Regions from separate parts of the Homo sapiens genome. Here region 2 is linked to region 1. The links come from fine-mapping of genetic effects on gene expression. Tissue or cell type: whole blood. Region 1 holds a variant in brackets; the other region holds the start of a gene. All regions are shown on one strand. Distances are from middle to middle.

Region 1 (5,678 bases):
ATCAGGGCTTTGCTTGGTGGACAAAGGTTCTTCCTGGTTTTGTTCTTTCAGTGCCTACTTTTTTTTTTTTTTTTTTTTTTTTTGAGATGGAGTCTCACTCTATCGCCCAGGCTAGAGTGCAGTACAACCTCCGCCTCCCGGGTTCAAATGATTTTCCTGCCACAGCCTTCTGAGTAGCTGGGATTACAGGTGCATGTCATCATGCCCAGCTAATTTTTGTATTTTTAGTAGAGACGGGGTTTCACCATGTTGGCCAGGCTGGTCTTGAACTCCTGACCTCCAGTGATCTGCCTGCCTTGGCCTCCCAAAGTGTGGGGATTACAGGCGTGAGCCACTGTGCCTGGCCAGTGCCTACTATTTCTGGCAGTGAGTCAAGCAGTGGAGACCACGGTTTTGTGTTTTTTTGCTGTTGTTTTTGTCATTGCTTTTTTGTGCAATCTTAAATGTGTTTCTTCTTTTTTTTTGAGATGGAGTTTCGCTGTTGTTGCCAAGACTGGAGTTCAATGGTGCGACCTCAGCTCACTGCAACCTCCGCCTCCCAGGTTCAAGTGATTCTCCTGCCACAGCCTCCCGAGTAGCTGGGATTACAGGCATGCACCACCACGCCCGGGTAATTTTTTGTATTTTTAGTACAAAAATAGAGACCGTGCCCGGCTTAAATGTGTTTCTTTCTGCAATCTCCTCTTCTACAGCTTAAAGGCTGCCAGAGGCAGCAGGAGAGAGAAACTGGGATGTGACCAAGGTTAGAGGTTTTTTCCCCCAGTCAGTACTGTAAGGTCATGCTTATCTCTAAGGCTTGTACTTAAAAGAGTATTTCAGGCCGGGCACGGTGGCTCACGTTTGTAATCCCAGCACTTTGGGAGGCCAAGATGGGCGGATCACCTGAGGGCAGGAGCTTGAGACCAGCCTGGCCAAAATGGTGAAATCCCATCTCTACTAAAAATACAAAAATTAGCCAGGTGTTGTGGCGGGCACCTGTAATCCCAGCTACTCAGGAGGCGGAGGCACGAGAATCGCTTGAACCTGGGAGGTAGAGGTTGCAATTAGCCGAGATTGCGCCTAGACAACAAGAGCGAGACTGCATCTCAAAAAAAAAAAAAAAAAAAAAAAAAGAAAGACAGTATTTCTTGACCTATGGTCGGGGAGCTACTATGGGCCACTCTTCTGACGGTCAGCAGAGGCCTACGAGGCCTCCTGAAGGGCTGGGCCTCTCCAGTTCTTGATCTGCAAATCCATTTTCCCTTTGTTTTAGCTAAGAGGTGGGATAGGAGAGAAGACAAAACATGGGGTATGTTCATGCAGAAGTGATTCATCAAAGTAGAAGAAATATTAAGAAATTTCCAACAAATGATAGAATGTTCTCATTCATCTTAAAATAAGCAGGATTCATCTCTGGGATGATTCATGCTGAGCACTGCAGCCAAATGGAACTGCTGTGGGCAGTAGATATTTATGGATTTAACATTCAAGGCTTTTACCATTCCTGAGTAAACGGTGGTCATGTTCATTTTTCTGAGACCTAAATCTGAATCCTGCACACTAGGACATGGACATGAAAAGGCAGGCTGGTGGGCTCTGCTCTTTAACATGTGAGGATGCAATGAGAGGTCAGCGGCCTGCAACCCAGAAGTCCCTCACCAGAACCTGACCCTGCAACACCCTGATCTCAGACTTCCCAGCTTCCAGAACTGGGAGAAATCAATTTCTAGTGTTACTTAAAAAAAGCAAGTCACATAGTTAGTTGCTAAGTTAGCCCAGCTAATGGTCCATCCTTTACAGCACGTGTAGCTTGGTAGCTATATACTCAGCATCATGTGTGCACTTTATGAGAAAAATTTCTTGATATAGTGGTACATAGGAACATTTAGGGTTCTAAAAGTACTTTGGATATATCCTTCAAAACTGTCAAAGTCTATCATTCTTCAATTCTACTCTGTTATTTCCTGCTTCCATGTCTTTGGATTTACTCTTATATCTGCCCAGCCTCCCCCCATATCCAACTATTAAAATTATGTTTAAGAAGCATGTCACCTCTCTCAATTAAGTTTTTCTTAATTATTTTTCACTAGCATAATCTCTCCCTGCTTAGGACCTCCTTAGAATTTTGTTTGTATCTTCTTTATGGCTTTTGTTTTATCCAATCTTGTATTAGGGTTCACTGGAGAAACAGAACCAACAGAATATATTTAGCTACATAAGAGGGGATTTATTATGGGAATTGACTCACGCAATTATAGAGGCTGAGAAGGCCCATGATATGCTGTCTTCGAGCTGAAGAACCAGGAGAGCAGGTGGTTAATTCAGTCTGAGTTTGAAGGCCTGAGAACCAGGGAAGCTGATGGTGTTACTCTAAGTCCGAGGCCAAAGGCTGAGAAACTGGGAGGCCACTGGTGTAAGTCCCAGAGGCCAAAGGCTGAGAAATTGGGAGGCCACTGGTGTAAGTCCCAGAGTCCAAAGGCAGAGAATCTGGAGCTCTGATATCCTAGAGCAAGAGAGAGGGTTGGTGTCCCAGAAAGAGACAGCATATGCACCCTTCCTCTGATTTTTTGTTCTATCCAGGACCTCACCAGATGTGATGACGCTTGCTCACATTGGTGAGGGGATCTTCTTTACTCAGTCTACTGATTGGAATGCTGATCTCTGCTGGAAACACCCTCACAGACACACCCAGTAATCATGTTTTACCAGTGATCTGGGTATCTCTTAACCCAATCAAGCTGACACATAAAATTAACCATCACGGACCTTCAATGATAATAATCAGTGTGCTCTATTTTATTTCTAACTCTGAGATTATAGTCATCTTTAGGTTACCAGTGGATCTTATTCATCTGAGAAGGGTCCCTATGTCCCCAACCACCCTACTTTCACAGAGCCCCCACATGACAGGGGCAAATAAATATTTGTTAAGTTGAATTGGGTTAAAGGCTGGTTCTGTTGTAGCAAAGTAAATAGACATCTTTGGATGATAGTTTTTGCTGGATGTTACTAGTACTTTTGATAGTCATCTATAAATAAAATGATATTGCTATGTTCTTTGGATAACCTGACCTAGGGAATACAGCAAATATGTGAGTCTGAGCCGGATCAATAGTTGCTCTAACATGGATGTTTAATATTCCTTTCATCTTCTAATTTGACAATTCTCTACCTTGTCCAACTCTGCCTTTCTCAAATCTAATTCCTATTCACTCTGTTATGGTACCCTCCTTTTTATTCCCTTTCTCATTACATCGTATTGAAACGTCAGAAAAATAGAACACTTGCTCTTGAGAGCCTATTGGCTCAAGTAGTCTAAATGGAGAGTGAATTTAAATGTTCTTTCTTATAGCAACATTTTAACCAAAGCCTGTATCAGCTTTAGAGGCACCTTCTAAACAATTTTGGGACCTGTTTCCTTTCCCTCCCCGAAATCCACTTTTTTTCC[T/C]TTCCTTCACAGGGAAGGGAATTTCTTGAAAATATTGTCTACATTGTCTTTCTCTGTATCTTACATCCTATTCAACTTATAGCTTATCTCGCTAACTGTGTCTTAGCCCAGGTTCTCTAGATTGCAGAGCCTGGGGTCAGGATTCAGGTGCTGATTCTCTTTCTGGGAGCTTAGAAAGGGAAAAATGAAGACAAGTCAGTGGAGGCAGGATGATGTGTTACAATGTTGGTCCCTGCTTCCAGCAAGCCATGATGAGAAACGGCAGGTGACTTAGCAGGTAGTGTCCTTCAGCCGTGGGAGTTCTCTGGCATGGCTGCAAGGAGCAATCACACCTTAAAATGGAAGGGAACAATGAGAAAAACGTATCTGTTTGCCTCACTTCTGTCTCCTATTTCCCATTTGTCAAGGTTTGCCCCACAAGAAGATAATTCCCTTCCACTTCTGCTGTGTAACTTCCATGGTGCATCATCTGGTCCATTGGCACCAGCTCAGGAAGCAAGATTTCATGCCTTGTGGTAGGTATGGCAAATGTTTCATTCTATCTGAAAGTGGAGGAGTAATTTTATGCAGAAGGGAGCATGTGTAGGCCATGCAGGTCTAGGACTTCAGTTCTGACTTCAGGCAACTCAGGGAAGTCAGCAGAGGTCCAGAGTAGTGGGAGGCGAGTGGTGCCTTTGGAGAGAAGGAAGTAGTTGAAGGAATGTGACAGGGAGCACGAGGTTATGCCCGATACACAACACAGGCAGAATTCACCCTCACCTTTCTACTGAAATTGCTTTTGCTGAGGTCATCAAAGAGGTCTTGGCAAATCCAGAGGACCCTTTCTAGTCCTTGTCTTACTGGACAGCTTTGCTCCATCTGACACAGCTGGCCATGTTCTACCCAAAACTCTGTCCTCCTTTTGTTTTCCTGATTCACAGAATAGGTTCTATTCCTACCTCTCTGGCAGTGTCTTCTTAAGGACGGCTTCCTTCTTCCATCTCTTAAAACTGGCTATTCTCTGTGGTTCCATTTTCAGCCTTCTTTCTTGTATCCTCACTCTCCACATTTAGCTGTCTTCTATGCGCTGATCATTGCCAAATCAGTATCTGAGGCCCAAATCTCTCTGCTCCAGGTCTATGTGTATAACTGTTTACATGTCTCTACCTGGATGTTCACCTCAGGATGTCAAATATAACAATGCTAAAATTGATTCATCCTCTATACTGCCCCCACCAACCCCCACCAAACCTGCTTTTCTTCCTGTGACCCTGTCTTGGTAAATATCACAAAAACAAGAACTGGGCAGTTCTCTTGAACTCCTGTCTTTCCTTCACATCTCACATTCAATAAGTCACTATTTTTTTTTTTTTGAGATGGAGTCTTGCTGTGTTGCCCAGGCTGGAGTGAAGTGGCACAATCTTGGCTCACTGCAGCCTCCGTCTCCCAGGTTCAAGTGATTCTCCTGTCTCAGCTTCCCAAGTAGCTGGGATTACAGGTGCCCACCACCACCCCTGGCTAATGTTTTGTATTATTAGTAGAGACAGGGTTTCACCATGTTGGCCAGGTTGGTCTCAAACTCCTGACCTCAGGTGATCCACTTGTCTTGGCCTCCCAAAGTGCTGGAATTACAGGCATGAGCCACTGTGCCTGGCCAACAAATTTTTAACTTTACATTATTGTGGACTATAGGTTCAATGCTGTACAACAGATCTCTACACTTACTTATCTTGCTTGACTGAAATTTTATGCCTCGGGGTTATTAATTCTTAATTTCCCTCTCCTCCAGTCGTTGGTAACCACCATTTCACTCTTTGATTCTATGAATTGGACTAGGCAGAATTGTGCCATATTTGTCTTTCTGTACCTGGCTTGTTTCACTTAGCATAATGTCCTCATTGTTCATTCATGTTGTCACATATTGTAGAATGTCCTCCTTTTTAAAGGCTGAATAGTATTCTATTGTCTGTATGTACCATCATTTTCTTTATCTGTTCATCTGTTGATGGACATTTAGATTGTTTGTACATCTTGGCTGTTGTGAATGGTGCTGCAGTAAACATGGGAATGCTAGTATTTCTTTAAGATCCTAATCTCAATTCTTTTTAAACATCCAGAAGTGGAATTGCTCAGTCAAATGGCAGTTCTATTTTTAATTTTTTGAAGAAATTTCATTCTGTTTTCCATAGCAGCTGACCATTTTGCATTCTCACCAATGGTGTGCAAGGGTTCCCTTTTCTCCACATCTTTACCAATAATTGTTATCTTTTGT
Region 2 (5,000 bases), 67 kb after region 1:
AGTGGGCTAAAATTAAGGTATCATCAGGATACCATCTCTTCCTTTCCAGAGGCTCCAAGGGAGGATCCATTTTCTTGCCTTTTCCATTTTCCAGTCTGCTCCCAAAAGCTGGAGAGTCCCTTTCCCCAAATCCTCAATTTACTCACATCTGCAGAGTCCTTTTGTCATGGAAGGTAACATATTCATAGTTCCCAGGGATTGGAATGTGAACATTCCATTGGATGAGCCATTATTCTGCCTAGTGCAGAGATCACGAAAAGACAATCCAGATTAGAGTCAATTTACTGGGTTAGGATCCTGGGTTAAGTTACTTAACCCCTCTGTGCCTCAGTTCCCGCATCAATAAGATGGGTGAGGATAACAACAGTATCTACCGTAGAGGGTAGAGGTTTAAAGACAGTGTTTGTAAAGTGCTCAGAACAGTACCTGGCACATAGAAAGAACAATAGGAACATTTATTAAATACATTTTTTTTGAGACAGAGTTTTGCTCTTGTCACCCAGGCTGGAGTGTGGTGGTGCAATCACAGCTTCCTACAACCACCGCCTCCTGGGTTTAAGCAATTCTCCTGCCTCAGCCTCCTGAGTAGCTGGGATTACAGGTGCCTGCCACTACGCCCGGCTAATTTTTGTATTTTAGTAGAGATGGGGTTTCGCCATATTGGCCAGGCTGGTCTCAAACTTCTGACCTCAGGTGATCTGGCTGCCTTGGCCTCCCAAGTGCTGGGATTACAGGCGTGAGCCACCGCGCCTGGCCTTATTAAATATATTTTAACAACATATTGATACTTAGGTATATGTCAAGCACTGTTTTAGGTGCTGAGGATATGGAAAGGAATATGACTTGGAACTCAAGAAATTAGATACACAAATGCAGTTACTTCCATAAAAGGCATAGAAATACTATAGAATTACAGTTTTGTTAAGGCTTAGGGAAACTTTAGAAATATTAGTCAAATGAATATGAATATGAATATGAATGACATTTGAGCTCAGCTTTGTACAATGAATAGGTGTTGGCCAGTCAGCTAAGTAGGGAAGAGCTTGAAGACATGAAGAAATGTGTATTCAAATAACGTTAATATTTCAGTGTGCTTGGAGCAAAAAATAAATGATGTGAGACAAAGCTAGAAAGGCTAGTGTAAGCAGTCAGGTAATAAAGTGCCAAGTTCAGGAGTTTGAACTTTATCCTGAAAGCAATAAAATCCTTTCGGTGTTTAAACGGGAGGACATCATCAGATTTGTGCTTTTATAAGGCTACTCAGGTAACTAGTGAGAAAAATAGATTGAGTTTGAAGAGACTAAAGGTTGCTCCAGTTGTTCAGGTGGTGGTAGTAGAAGACGACACAGGCAAGGACTTGAAAAATATTTAGGAGAAGCTACAAGACTTGGTGTCCAACTTGATATGGATGTTGAGAGAGGAAGAACGGGGAGCTATTAGTATGTCTAGGTTCCTGGCTTAGGGGATTGTTGAATGGGTGGCCCATTCATTGAGAACGGAAAGGAACGTAAGAAGCAATTTTGGGGGGGAAATAATAATAATAGCCAACATTCTAAAGGGCTTGTTACTATTACCATGGTAAAACTGAGGCTTAGGAAGACCTAGTTAAGGTACTACTTATTATTACAGAAAAATTACGGCTTAGAAATGTCAAGGTCCTATCACTAATATTTGAATAGCTAGGATTTCAAGCAAGGCAACCTGATTCCGGACTCTTAGCCTTTCTAATGCTGTCTCAGTTTCGCACATGTTGAATCTGAGGTACGAAGAGTATGCAGGTAATGCTGCTCGGGAGGTATTGGGAAATACACAATCTGAGCTCAGGAGAAAGAAAGCTTTGGGTCGAAAGTACCCTCCACGGTAGGGGAAAAAACGTGAAAGGAAGCCCATTCTTTTCGTATGTCAGTTCACATTAGTTCAAACATCTCCGTTATAATTTCTTTGTCTTCCTCCCACCCCTGCCCCCTCTCCCACAGAAAGAAAACATAATACATGTCTGGCTGTGAGATCACACGACATCGGATAGTTTTCAAATTCAGCCCTTGACAACGAGCTCATAGATGCGGTGGTGCTTTGTTAACCTGAAAAGGACCCTCAGCGCCGGAAGTTAGCCGTCTTTCTCCATCCTGACTACTACAGTAGCCCTCCCAGAAATCGTCCCAAAATTGTCTGATAGAAAGGCTGCACGGAAACAACCCGCCACGGACAGCGGACCGAGAACAGTGACGCGACGCGATGACGTCACGCAGCAAGCGGGTGATTCCCCAGCCTCTGGCGTCACGCGCCGATGACGTAATCCCAGGCGTTCGCCCTCATGCGGGCCAGGGTTTGGCCTCGCTCCCACGGGTCGGTCAGGCCCTCCCCGCCCCCTCTCACCTGCGGGAGGCGGGGCGGGCACGGCTCCACCGGAGCCGCAGCCGCCGCCGCCGCGCCGGGGAGGGGGAGTGGGGGAGGGGGAGGGGGAGAAGGGGAAAGGGCAGAGGGGAGGAGGAGGCGGGAGGAGGAGGAGTAGGGGAGCCAGTGAACTAGGCGGTCAGGCCTGCCGGGCGGCGTACAATAGCGCGGCTGTGGGCGGGGGAGGCTGCCCTCCCGCGGCTGCAGCCGGAGCCGAAGGTGGTGGCTGCACAGTAGACGCCCCCTCACGGCTTCCCCCACACGCTCCCGCCCCCTCGCTCGCCCATCGCGCTTCCCTCACAGGCTCTGCAGTCCTCCCCCACAGACGCCTTCCCCCTTGGACTCTCATTCCCTTTTCCACGGAGCCCCGCGCTTTCGTGAGCCCCCTCGAGGAACCTGGTCTCCGCATCCAGTTACCACCTCCTGCCTCAGAGGCCATCTGAGCCCTTCGCACCTCGCCCCTCAGTCCCCCCTTCCCCCCCCGCCCGCGTCGCCTCGCTCCCTCCCGCCCCCCCATCATCCCTTCCCTCGCAGTTCCCCTGTCCTGAGGGGAGCCCCGCCACGGGCAGCGCGGCGGCGGCGGCAGGAGGGAGAAAGTGAAGCGGTAGCTCGCGCACACTCGCGCCCTCACTCCCGGCTAGGCGGCACCCACCGCCGGGAGGAGGAGGAGGAGCCGAGAGGAGCTGAGCGAGCGCGGAAGGTGAGAGCGGGCCTACCGCCCAGTACCCCTCGCGTCCCGGGCTGCCAGGGCTGGGGCGCGGGGGTGGGGACGGGTGGAGTGGGGGTCTGGGCCCATTTATTTCGCGTTGCGGGGCCGGGCGCCTGGGCGGGAGGAGGCGCCAGGTAAGGTGAGGCGGGCGGCGCCCCGCGAGGCCCGCTCCCGTCGGGCCAACAAAGGCCCCCTGTGCGCGTACCGGCGGGGTCGCGGGTCTCAGACGCCGGGCGATTCGAGAGACCTGGGAGAGGGAAGGGGCGGGGCGGGGCCAGGCCAGGCTGGAGCCGGGAGGCCACACGAGTACCGGTCCGGGACCGAGTCCGTCCCGAACTTCGCAGTCCTGCGGCGCTCACCCTGTCCCGCTACGAGGAGGCACAGCAAAGCGGCGCCCAGTTCCTTCTGCATGGAATAAATGACCCCTTCCAGGCTTGGACAGTCACCTTTAGGGTTCTACTCCCTGAAAAATAAGGGCTGGTAGGACTTGACTTACGCAGCCCCTCCCCCACCCCGGAATATTCTGTAACTTGGGAAGTGAAAAACAACCGGGGAAGGAGATTTATAGTTATTTTATGTTCATTATTACGTTTGAAAAGACATGATTGTTGTAGCCTTCGCTATCCTATTTCAGCAGTACACATTACTGGGAGTGTTTTGGAAGAATACTTGAGAAGTAGTGGGTGTGGCGTTGTGAGCAACGTCCTTGGTTTTTAAACCCCTTGGATAATTGTTCTACTGTTACAAAAACTGTGAACAGTGAAGGGAAGGGTTAGTTCCGTGGTTACTAATAAAAATTCAGATTCATTAGTCTTGACTTTAAGAATTGTTCCTGAGAACAATCTTTAATTTTGCCTCCTACATTTTTGGGTTCTCTTTCAACTCTGTCAGGAGAAAGTAGGAATTATCAGTACAGATACCTCATCTCTCTTACCCTGTGGCTTCATCTACTTCTTGTGTGACCTTGAGCAGGTCACTTCCAGCCTTAAAAGCTCCAGAAGTTTGGTTTTATGCCCCAAAACGGGCAAGTAGCAAGCACCGGACTCAGCTTTCAAGAGTCCACTGAAGAATTCCCACACTGTGAAGTCTTTGCTGGCCTCCATCCTGTCTCTCCTCTTACAGACAGAGCTGATTTCTTCCCATTGGCCCGGTGGGATTTCTACCACAGCACTTACAACATTTTGGTTCCTATTTGGAAAATTCTAAGTCAGGTGCATATAAAAACTCCCCACCTCAACTAGAAACTATGCCTTTCAAAAAGGGTTTTGGGAACATTGACCCTGAAAACTTCCCATACTTTCCCTGAAGCTTATCCATACTCTTTAACTACATGAGCTCATGGGTCTACCTTGGTAAATTTGCTTATTCAGTCAATTCGTTTATCCAACATTACTGGAGTTCGGAGAGCTACTATGTTTCAGGCCTCTTGCTAAGGCTATGGGGATTCAGTCTATTAAGATATTCCCTGTCTTCAAAGAGCTCAAAGTCTAATGGGTGAGGTAGACAAGTAAACAATGAAGGTCTGCCCTAATCTCTGGGGGACTCCAGTTGTACAGGTAGTAGTGTGCAATAATTGAGGCTGCTGGACCTGTTTTACAAGTCTTCTCTTGGCCAAAGTGAGTCCTGCAGGGAAGGTGACCTGCCTCATCCATAACAGGGCATTTGGTAAAAAGCTTGTTCAGTTCAATTCAATATACATTTACTAAGCACATGTTTTGAGTCCCTGTGCTAGGTTTGAAGGAAGCAGTGCCTCAAAGGAAGGTACTGTGCATCCAGAAAGATTTCTGTAAAACAAAACCTTACCACATCAGCGCCCCCTACCCCTGACTCTTCATATTCTGAAGATAAATTTCAGAGTAACATGGAATAAAAAGCTCTCAGGGATCAGACCACTGCC

Evidence for each region. PIP is the estimated chance that this variant, and not a neighbour inherited with it, causes the effect.
Region 2: it holds the start of PAK1, and the variant in region 1 is fine-mapped to the expression of PAK1 in whole blood (TOPMed, PIP 0.99).

What each region holds. Positions count from the first base shown.
Region 1 is chr11:77,538,205-77,543,882 of GRCh38, reverse strand. It overlaps LOC124902722 (a long non-coding RNA gene), which reads left to right and starts at 576. Exons shown (of 3, transcript XR_007062794.1): 1 at 576-610; 2 at 3,835-3,942. The variant T/C (reference allele first, on the strand shown) is at 3,428.
Region 2 is chr11:77,471,646-77,476,645 of GRCh38, reverse strand. It overlaps PAK1 (p21 (RAC1) activated kinase 1), which reads left to right and starts at 2,552. Exons shown (of 15, transcript NM_002576.5): 1 at 2,552-3,094. RefSeq lists silencers at 2,318-2,677, 2,908-2,957, 2,978-3,287 and an enhancer at 2,528-3,444.